Regions from separate parts of the Homo sapiens genome. Here region 1 is linked to region 2. The links come from fine-mapping of genetic effects on gene expression. A gene starts in region 2. The other region holds a variant in brackets. All regions are shown on one strand. Distances are from middle to middle.

The links. PIP is the estimated chance that this variant, and not a neighbour inherited with it, causes the effect. A credible set is the group of variants that fine-mapping cannot tell apart.
Region 1: its variant is the best candidate, but not a certain one, in a credible set for the expression of BCL11A in monocytes after LPS (Quach 2016, PIP 0.81).

What each region holds. Positions count from the first base shown.
Region 1 is chr2:60,526,583-60,531,950 of GRCh38, forward strand. All of the region lies in intron 2 of BCL11A (BCL11 transcription factor A), which reads right to left. Among named protein-coding and RNA genes, the nearest start is that of BCL11A, 24 kb to the right of the region's middle. RefSeq lists a silencer at 4,159-4,228 and an enhancer at 5,249-5,368. The variant T/C (reference allele first, on the strand shown) is at 2,763.
Region 2 is chr2:60,551,009-60,556,376 of GRCh38, forward strand. It overlaps BCL11A (BCL11 transcription factor A), which reads right to left and starts at 2,646. Exons shown (of 4, transcript NM_022893.4): 1 at 2,208-2,646. The coding sequence starts at 2,262. RefSeq lists enhancers at 1-79, 3,906-3,955, 4,530-5,138 and silencers at 407-716, 777-836, 1,357-1,716, 3,126-3,215, 4,156-4,285.

The sequences.
Region 1 (5,368 bases), 24 kb before region 2:
TCTGCAGCGCATTTAGATTAGCCCAAAGATAGTGTAATTTGATGGTTTATAGGCCTCCTCTCGGATTATGAAACAATACCAAGCCTTCAAGTGCAGTGTGTCTATGTCAGGAGGGTGTTAAAGAAGAAGATGCAATGAAAATGTTTGACAACGTGAAAGCAGCCATAAATTACATGACAACTGTGTAAAAGTCATGATGAAACAAATAAAGGGCTGACCTATAATGCGTCTGATTCATTGTGACACACACAACTCCCTGCGCTAATCTCTGCCCAGCCAACGCATTCTTAAGCGGGGAACTACTTAGCACCAGGAACGTTGTAAATTATCACTAGTCAACAGCATTGATTTTTAGTCGACATTTCAATCAGGTTGAAGTAGAAATACTACCCGGCTCATCCAACAGCCTCTTAACCAGTCCACTGCCCCTCTGAGGTCTCCCCGGTTATGGCTTTGCTAAATTTCCATTGCTCTCACCATTCGATATTTATTGTAGCTTTGCCACATCCAGGCACTTGGCCTGAAGGGTCACCGGCCTGCCTCTTGGGACATCAAATTTGTGCTTACCTAACGAAGGCAGAAACAGAAAAAGAAAAAGAAACAAAAGGCCATCATCAGAGATGTGGCCTGATTTTCACTGATTTTCAAGGGAAGAGAAGGAAAACTAGGGGGTGCGAGCGAGGGAAATAAGAAGGGTTCTAAAGCCATGATACGCCTTTTATCATTTCAGCTTTATCATTTCAGTCTAGGAGACCCAGCAAATAAAACTAAGAGCTTCTCTTCCAGGGTGACAAGGGAGAACCACTACACTCTTGACCCAAGGGTATGTAGAGACAATGAAGAGGGCCAAGAGAAGGGGTGAGGGGGAAGGGCTTGCATGACCTCCATTGAGGACGTCCATGCCCCGGGACAGAGTGCGAAGTAAAAGTGAAGCTTTGGAGCTCTTGACCCACATGGATTCTCAGCAGCCACCTCCATCCCACCTCAAACTCAGAAGACAACCTGGATGTGACCGACAACTTCTTTGTGATGGATCTGAACAGCCTCCCTTGGTTCTAGCAGAAGGACTTACCAAGTGAGCAGAGCTCCCATCCGATACTCGCCAGTGCTGAGGCCAACTCTTCCACTCCTCCCACGGGGCCTCCGCATGAAGTAGGCGCTTCTCAACTACCAAATGATTCTGAAATTCTCTCAGTGGAGGTCTATGTTAGCCTGGCCAATTTGAAAGGATGGAGAATACAGGAAAACAGTAACATTTGGTTTTGGAATACATTGTGTAATCCATCTGCAACGAACCTCAGGTCTTGCTTCAGCAAATATTAATAGCGTCAGGGCAGCCTGTGGAGTGACTGGGAGAGGCCACCACGCAGCTGAAAACTTGCCTCTGGGGAAGCCACATGCGGATCATATGGAGCTGTTGACTGCAGTTTCCATTCAAAACTTCCCTCAAGTTTCCAGCATGCCTTCCGGACTTGCCTTACCACAGCCTTGTTCAGCCAGAAATGAAAACCTCCTCGAAGCAGATTATGACCCCCCAGAACCCATCGTCCTAAGAAACACCACTGCCACGCACACTCACTCACACTCAGTCTCTCCCTCCCTGTATAATTCTGATTCTCCCCAGCCTTTGAAGGTACGATCCGAGAAGTAAATGCCACAGAGACAACACACAGAACTGCTGCAGGCCAAGCCTCACCACTTCTTAAAAGTCCGAGCTTAGTTTCTCATTCAGCCCACTGCAGTCTCCTGACCAAGCCACACACAAACAGTAAAACCTCCTCCCTCTGTTTCTCAGGACCCTCACTTGATTTCAGGCTCATTCTGGACAGATGGGGAAATGACTACTTGCAAAGCAGGATTCCTTACATTGCAACTTTTCCCAACAGCTCCGTGCTCCTTCAATATGCCCAGAACTGGAGGGGAACATTCTTCTCTTTCCCAGAAGATTGAAAAACTTGACCACAGAACCCATGGGAGGGACAACTGTCCAGCACCAGAGCTTCCTGCCCAGTTGTTGCCTGGCACCGCTGAAGAAAGCTGCAAACGTACTGAAGAGGTAGCAGAGGGTGGCGGCCGCAGGCCAAAGGATTGAACAACTGTGGACCCTCAGGGAAGTCATTTAACCCTTGATGAACCCCAATTTCCTCCTCTACCAAATGAGGCTAATGGGAGTGTTTCCTTTCCGAGGTTGTTGTGGGATGGAATATCAATGTGTCAGACACATGGTAATAATGACAACAGCAATTCTGGAGGTGCAGCCCCCGGAGCGAGTAATGTCTGTGCTTTCCCTCATTTACTTCTCACATGGACTCTATGAGGTAAGGGACCTTGAGTTATCTCCATTTCACAGAGAGGTGAAATGATTCCCTCAGACTCTCCCAACCAGCTAGCAGTAACATAGAAATCTGAACCCAGAGTAACTGTGTCACACACCCAGGCAGGCACAAGCCTCTCGTAAGGCAACACACGTCTATGGGGAGAGGGGACTCCCACCCACGAGGGAGCTGCCACCAGAAACATAATGAGACCCTGAGCTCTTTAGACCCCCACCTGCCCTGCTCTTCTCTCATCCCAACCTGCTCACCCCATAATGGGGGAACTACTTTGAGACCCCAGGAGCACACAGTTCCAAGCCATGAGTCATAACCGTAATAGTAATGAGCTTTTGTGACATGTTTTACCATGTGCCCAGCACTGAGCCCAGCGCCCCCACATGCTCTCATAGGATGCTCAAAGGCCCTATGAGGCAAGCCCCGTGATTC[T/C]CCCCACTTTACAGATTGAGGAAGCGGAGGCTTAGGGAATGAAATCTGCCCAAGGTTGCACAACTAGAAATGGTATTACTTCTTTACCCTCAGCCTAAACCATTTTATTTCGTGTAATCAAAGAGAAGAAGAAAAGAAAGAAGATACATCATATGTCAAGGGCATATTTCCCCTCTTTCTGTCCCTCCTCCCTTTCTTACCAGCTCAGGTTACAAAGACATCTAGGTGGGAGAGAAGACTGCCTCTAAGGGCTTGGCTGAGTTGGCGGGCGGGAGCGGGGGCAGGTATCCATGGGATAAACCCAGAGGCCCCCAAATTTTCCCAGTTTTTATTTGCTACTAGAAAAGGAGAAGGAAATCCTGCCTCCCTTATGAGGCCTAGCCAGGGGAAGTAAATGTGATTTTATCACATTTTATATAGATGTGCACAATGGTGCCTTTTCAAGTCTATGATGGGAAAAATATTTTTTATTGTGTGAATATCATTTCAGACAGGTCCCCAAACCACTTGAAAGCCCTGGTGTCCCCTAGGTGGGATTCTATGAACCCAGCTTTAGCCCCAGCAGCTCCTCTGGTGGGAACTAGAACATGCCTCCTGCCAGTTAGTAACAGGGAAATTCAATTACTTCGCCACTTGTGGCAGGAGGGCAAAGACTGCACATTAAAAGAGCTAAAAATGTCAGGAAGTTATTGGGATGATGACTCCTGCTTGCCAACATTCATATATGAATGCATAATGTCACAATAAACTAAAAAACACAGGAAGAGGCCAAGAAGATAAGAAAATCGAGAACAAAACAAGCCCAAACACATGGGTTTGCCATCGGTCCTGGGTCCTGCCCAGGAAAGGCTGCGCCTCTAACAAGAGCACCTTTTCCCCACCCCTGGCCTTTCTTGAGCCTTCCTTGAGCCTTCCTTGCATATTATCGTTCTCAGCCACCGACAGCTTAATTCACAGGCCCTTCCAACAAGTTAAACTTCAGCCATTTAAAAAAAAAAAAAAAAAAGAGTTTCCACTGATTTCTTACCTGCACACGCAGGCACGCCGGCCACGCCCCACCCCACTGCACCACGAGCTCTCACACCTGGTCGCCTGAACACAACCAAACCCTTCCCATCTGGCCCTCGGGTTACTGGCGTTATCACAACTTTTTTTCCCAACGGCAAGCCAGGAAAGATGATAGAACCCGCATATGTAGCCAAAAGACTGGCCTCAACTGGTTCAGAGGAGGGAAAAAATTGAGCTGTGCGTCTCTTTTTTTTTTTATTTTTTATTTTTTTGCCTTTAGCCAAAAGACCAGGGAGCATTTGATGTACAGTCAGCAGGTATTTAAAAAAGAAAGAAAGAAAAAGGAAAAAAAAAACACTGAAAAGGCTTGGCTGCACTGGGGCCCTGACACGCTCTCATCTAAAGCCTGGCCCTCGGCCAAGTTCATCTGTTAATGGACAACCACAACCAGGGCCTGCACCTCCCCCACCTCCCACTACCCCTCCTGAGTCTTCTCTGTTCTCCTACCTCTTTCGAGCTCCTAAAAACTAGACATCGATTATGTCTGCGCTTTTCCCTTTCTATTCAAGATAAACAAAGTGCTTCAAGTTCAGGGCGCACCCTGGGACCCCTGACAAAACAATCTATCATTCTGTCTGCTAAACCAGTCTGGCTACACCATGGCCAGGGAGAGTAACGCTCCCAATGTACAATTTTCCCTTTGTGCTCCTTCCCTCTTGCCACTAACCTCTTTTCTTTACCACCTTCTCCGGAGCAGATGGACTTGACCACTTTGCTTAAGCCCCTCCTGGCAACCTCAGAAATTAGAGAAAAAAAAAAAAAGAGCTCCTGGCTACCCTACTCCGGTCCAGGTTTTTCTCCTCCCTCTGTGTTGCCCGACGGTCCTGCACACACAGACACAAATCCCGTTGGACCCACAGAATCTTTTCGACCCTCTCACACTAACACTAAACCAGAAAATAAATTAAATACTGGGACTGCCCCCTCCTTTGCGTTCTGCAAGAATATTTTAAGTGAGTTTTGTTTTAAATCATATCCATTAATTTACCCTGACTTGCAATTAAATGCAAGCACACTTTTTACAACCAGTACGGAATGCATTAATTATAACTACAAATGGTCAAATGAGAGCAAGGTCCCTCCAAAAAATATTAATAAAATACATAATAAATAATATTAATGAAACAAAAATAGATTCATAAGCCTTGGCCAGGGCTTTTATTATTTCATGCAAGGGGAAAGTCCAGCCAATGAAACTTGCTCCATACACTTTGGCAGGACTCAGACCAACCACTACCATTAAACTCAAGAGCGTGTTTTGGCAGTGCCCTGGCATTGGGGGGCCCTGTGCAGACACCACCAGGAGACGCTGACCCCAGTACCCAAGGCAGGGTCCATAACGTCTTATTCAGCCTTTCCATGTGGTCGGGAAGTTACCCACAGGCTGCTTCCCTCTTCCTAACCACCCTCTCTGCCGGCCGCAGCTGTTCTGTCAGTGTCCACCCTGCCCCTCAAAGGACAAATGAAATCCCCCAGACCCAGTGGGAAATAAGCCCACCTAAATGAAGAACTCAAGACTAGGGCACCATGAGCATCTG
Region 2 (5,368 bases):
TGGGGGAGCTTCCGAAGTGTGTGACAAGTTCCAGGGCCCAGTGAAAAATTAAATTCCCTGTGCGCACCCCCCACCACCACCCCTTTAAAAAAACACAGAACCAAGTATAGGTGGTCCTTTAAAACTGCATCAAAAATTTAAAGTAAGAATCATAAATTGAGTAGGGGGGGAATGTGGGCCCTCACGCCTTTCTTTCCCTTGCTGCCAAACTTTCCTAAGTGCCCACCGCCCGCCTTTCCAGGCGCAGTCAGCGGGAGACAGCCACCACCACCAGCTCTTATACAGACTCACAAGAACCTCAGACCAAGCCAGGCCTGGGGAAGAGGGCAAGACCCAAAGGGTGAAGTGCTCGGGGTCCCAGGATCCAGCGCCCTTAAAATGCACACTCAAACACACTTCTCCCCTGCCCTTCCCCGGCAACCCCGCCACCTGGCCTAGTCGTGCTCGGGGCGCAGGGGGACTGGTGACCAGACCGGGCGGGGTGGGGGGTGGGCAGGGAAAGCACGTGGTGACCTCCTCGCGGTCCCGAGCTGTGGACAAGAGACGTCTGAGAAAGTACCCAGGGCGGAGGGGAGGGGAGGCGCAGAACGCGCTTTTACAGTTGCCCTGCAAAATAAAAATGCTTTGCAAAGCCGAGTTTCACCCAGCCGATTTCGCAGTCTGGGAGGTCGAGAAGAGGTCTCGGCATTGTGCTGGGGGCGGACCAGGACCACGGGCCAGGCTGGCGCGGAGACACTGCGTGGCCTGCCGCCGTGCCTGGCGGGTGGGCGCCGGGCGCCGGGTGGGCGATCCGGGGCTGGGCTGGGGCGCGGCGAGGTCGGGCAAGGCCCGGGCGAGGCCAGGCCGCCGCCGCCGCCTGCTCCGGGGCTGCCGCGCCGCGCTCGGTCCTCTGTCTGTTTGTTGGCAGGAGGCTCCCGCACACGCGGTGCTTGTAAACATTCAGACACGAGATTTTTCCCAATCAAAATCCACTTCCACTTTTTTTGAAAATCTTCCAAAAAATAGTAAGAGGAGGGAGTTCCTCTCTCCCTCTCCGTGCCGTCGGCGCCCTAAGTTTGCAACTGAAGGGGTTTGGGGGAAGAGGGTGATTGTAAATTTTTTTCTAGATGAGAGATTGTGAGATTTTTGCAGGGGGGCTGGTGGGGGAGTCAAAGAGAAGGCCGTCACAGAAAAGGGTTGGCAGAGCGTTTGGCTTCGGTTTGGGGGCAAGAAATTGTACATTCTCTTGCCTTGTTTTATTTATTTTATTTTTATGTATTTATTTATTTATGTGCCAGTCTTCTCCTTGCTGCCTCTGAGGTTCGGTCGGGAGGGGAGGGCAGCGGCAACCCAGGAGGCAGCAGTCCGGGCTCCCTCCCTCCCTCTCCCGCGTGCCCCCGGCCGCCTCCTCCCCCGGCCCTAGCTCCTGCCCTTCGGCGGCGGCGGCGGCGGCGGCGCGGGAGGGCAAGCGCGAGGAGCCGGCACAAAAGGCAGCGGGACAAACACCCACCTCTGGCCGGAACAAAAGGCGGCAGTGCCGGCCGCGTCTCCCGTCCTTCCCGGTCCCACGGCTCTCCCCGTCGCCGCGGCCCCTCTCCCGACTCCGCGGACTCAGGAGCGCCGGGGGCCCCTTTCCACAGTGCCACTTTCTCACTATTGTGGGGATGACTACTTTCCTCCCGCTGCACACTTGACCGTGAGCGCGCTGGTGTCCAAAAGCCAGTCTCACCTCTTTTCTCCCCGGGAATCGTTTTTTAGACTTGTACTCACTCCCTCCCTACCCCCCCATTTTCTTACGGTGAGTGGGAAGCAACCTCCCTTTCCCCACCAGCTCCCACCCCCAGGTTTGCATGTGAGTTGTTCGCAACCTTAGCATTGTTCATTATTTTGCAAAACTGGCGGGGCGGGGGGGGAGTGGAATCATTGCATTCCTTTTCGAAAAGAGAAATAAAGCGGCGGAAAGGAGGAAAGAGGAGGAGTCAAATTTTTGTAAAATTAAATAAAATTAAAAGGTGCGTGCTGTCTCAAAAGTGCATACACGGCAATGGTTCCAGATGGGATGAGGGTTTTTTCCCCCTTTATCTCTTTTACCTCGACTCTCGGAGGTTTTTCTCGTGAAAAATTTAAAAATGCATGCACACACCCCTCTCTCCCCCTCGCTTTTGCTTCTAGTCCTGCGCGCTCTCGTGATTATTAATAATTATTATTACTATTATTGGGTTACTTACGCGAGAATTCCCGTTTGCTTAAGTGCTGGGGTTTGCCTTGCTTGCGGCGAGACATGGTGGGCTGCGGGGCGGGCGGCGGCGGCGGCGGCGGCGGCGGCGGGCGGACGACGGCTCGGTTCACATCGGGAGAGCCGGGTTAGAAAGAAGGAGACTCCAGAGAAAATATCTTCATCAGTGCCTTTTGACATCCAAAATAAATTAGAAATAATACAAAGATGGCGCAGGGAAGATGAATTGTGGGAGAGCCGTCATGGCTTTTTTTTAAGCAAAAAAAAAAAAAAAAAAAAAAAAAAAAAGAGGGAGAGAGAGAGAAGAGAGATAGAGGGAGAGAGAGAGAGAGAGATGAAAAAAATGGCAAAAGCCCCCCTGAGCTGCAAGTTCAAGTGCGGACGTGACGTCCCTGCGAACTTGAACGTCAGGAGTCTGGATGGACAGAGACACACAAAACATGGGCAGGGCGAGCAGGAGAGAAGGGGAGGAGGGAAGGGGAAGCTCACACCAATGGACACACATCAGGGGCTGGACATGAAAAAGAGACCAGGACAAGCCAATGGCCAGTGCGGGGAGGGGGAGGTGCGGGGCGGGGGGCTCCGCGGACGCCAGACGCGGCCCCCGGGGGAGGGGCGGGCCGAGGGGAGGGGGCGCTGGGGCCGCGGGCTCACCAGTGGCCGCAGCGAGCGCCGCGGCGGTGGCGTGGCCGGGAGAGAAGAAAGGGGTGGCAGGGGTGGGAGGAAAGGGTGGGGGGGAGCAAGACGTGCGCCCTGCTCCCCCCCACACACGCGGACTCTAAAATGAAAGATTATTCAAAAAAGAAAAAAATAGAGCGAGAGTGCACCGGGAGGCTGCAGCCCCGGGCTGGGGAAGCGCGGGCGGAGGGAAGCCAGGTAGAGTTGCTCCCGGACACCCTCCTCCGTACGCACACCCACTTCCCCTCCCCGCCGCCGCCGCGCTCGCTCCCCGCGTGTGGACGCCAGGGGCCGAAGTAAAAGCCCCGAGCCCGCGGCTGCGCTCGGGAAACTTTGCCCGAGGAGAGGACAGCAAAGAAAAATCACCCGAAGTTGAGAGCTGAGCCTCCAAGTTACAGCTCCGCAGCGGGCGAGGGGAGGTGGGAGGGAGCGCACGGCAACGCGGAATCCAGCCTAAGTTTGGAGGGCTGCGGGTCCGGAAGGGCAGCGCCCAAGTCTCCAGGAGCCCGCGCGGCCTGGAAAGAGGGGACCGGGGAGAGGCAGGCGGCGCAGGCCGGGGCCCGAGGGCGCCCCCAAGGCCGAGCCAGGGACCGGGAATCTGAGCGCCCCGCCAAGCGACTGGGTCTGAATGCAACTGAAAGCGCCGAGTCCCCGGCTCCTAAGGGTCGCAGAAAGAGAGCCCGAGGAATAAAGAACGAGGAGCCAGAGTCTGGCCCCCGGAGGGGAGCGCCGGGGGCCTGGGCAAGAGAGGCACCGAGGCGTCCACCTCTCTGAGAGGCCGAGGACAAAGCGCGGGCAGTCCCGGGAGTCCCAGTCCCTGGGAATGTGCTCACGGCGCCGCGGGAGGTCCCCGAGCCGGGTCCCTGGGAGGGACACACCCCCTCCCACTCCAGAGCAACTGCAAAAGCACAGAGGGATGGGAAGAAAATGTTTCTTACGGGCAGAGCACAACTGTTCCTGTGCTGTTACCCAGGGAAAGAGAAAATGGGAATGGAGAGAGAGCGACAGGCTCGCAGGAGCAGCGGGGAGACCACGGTGGTGAGATGACCGCCTCGGGTCACCGCCGCGCTCCCCAGGCGCCGCCGGCCAAGGCGCACACCCAGGAGCCAGCAGCCCCCTCTCGCCTTTCTGCAGACGTTCCCTGGAAATTAGGGAAGACCTGTTGGAAATAAAACCCTGTCTCTTTAATGCACACACGCACACACACGCGCGTGCTGCCGCTGTCAAAAAGCGGGCTTCACTCTGGCGTGGGATACTTTCAGTTTTACGTAAAATGTACAGCAACAGCACCCCCTGCGATTGGAAAGTTTATTCAGAAACGTGCCTGTAAAGTCCCCTGGCGCCTCCCGCCTCCCAGCCTCCCTGCCTGCCAGCACCACTCTGCAGCCGCCGCCGCCGCCGCCGGGGAGATCGCAGTCCGATTCCAAATCTGGAAGGAGTTGGGGGGAGAGGAGAATGGACTCAGGTCCAAGGGAGGTGCGGAGGGTGCAGGGTGGAGACGGGTCGCCATGGCCCGCGAGACCCTGAGCTGCAGGTGGATATGTGTGAGTGTGTCTGCAGAGCGAGGAGCCCTCCTTCCCTCTCCTCGGAGCGGTTCCACAACCCCCGTCTTCTCATCCCCCTCTTCAGTCTAAAGGGTGTCGCTTCCGTAAACTCACCCACCCGGTGGGGGGGCTTTATTGTTTTAAGCGAGGGCCCCGGGCTTGCACGCGCTCACCCATCCCGCAGCCCTGCCGGCAAGCGGCTGTTTATTCCTGTTTCGTCTTAGTAAAGTTTCAAGTCTACTGTGTTAGAAAATGACTGGCTTGCCTAGCTCGGCGGAGCTTCGGACCCCTCTAAGGAAGAAAAGGAGGTTTTGATGCTCAACATTGAGAGAGATGTGGGCTGTACTGGGATTGTGTCAATGTGGTTTGTTGTTTGTTGTTGTTTCCCTCCAGTTTGTGGGAGGGAGACCTCAAATTCTGTTTAAGAAGCGGGAGGATTCACTAGAAGTTAAGCTCTGTAGCTTGTGTGTGACACCATTTCCCCTTTTCACTGAGTTCTTCAGAGCAGGTCAGCATCTCTATTCCACCACAGTCTGCTTTTTGTCTTGTTAAACCAGCCTTGGAGTCACCAAAAGAATGTCTTCTTGGGGGGTGGCGGGGGAGGACGACGTGGGGGACGGTTGGAGGGAAGGTGAAGAGAGGGAAGAAGAAAGTGCAACTGGGAGGCCTTTGAAAAATAAATAAATAAAAGAAAAGCCCCTTCAGGTAACAATAGTGAGCCAGATTCTTTCAGAACCAAGCTTTTCAGATTTGAATATTGTTCCCACCCGTCCATAAAAGTCCATCTATAGAGAAGATATATAAATGAGCGAGTGAGTGTTGTGGAAATATATATATATGTATGATTTATATATAATGGTGTGTATAAAGCTTTTCGGGGTTGGCTGTAGTGTAAAAAGTAATGACTTTATTACCTCTGAAAGGTTCTGTG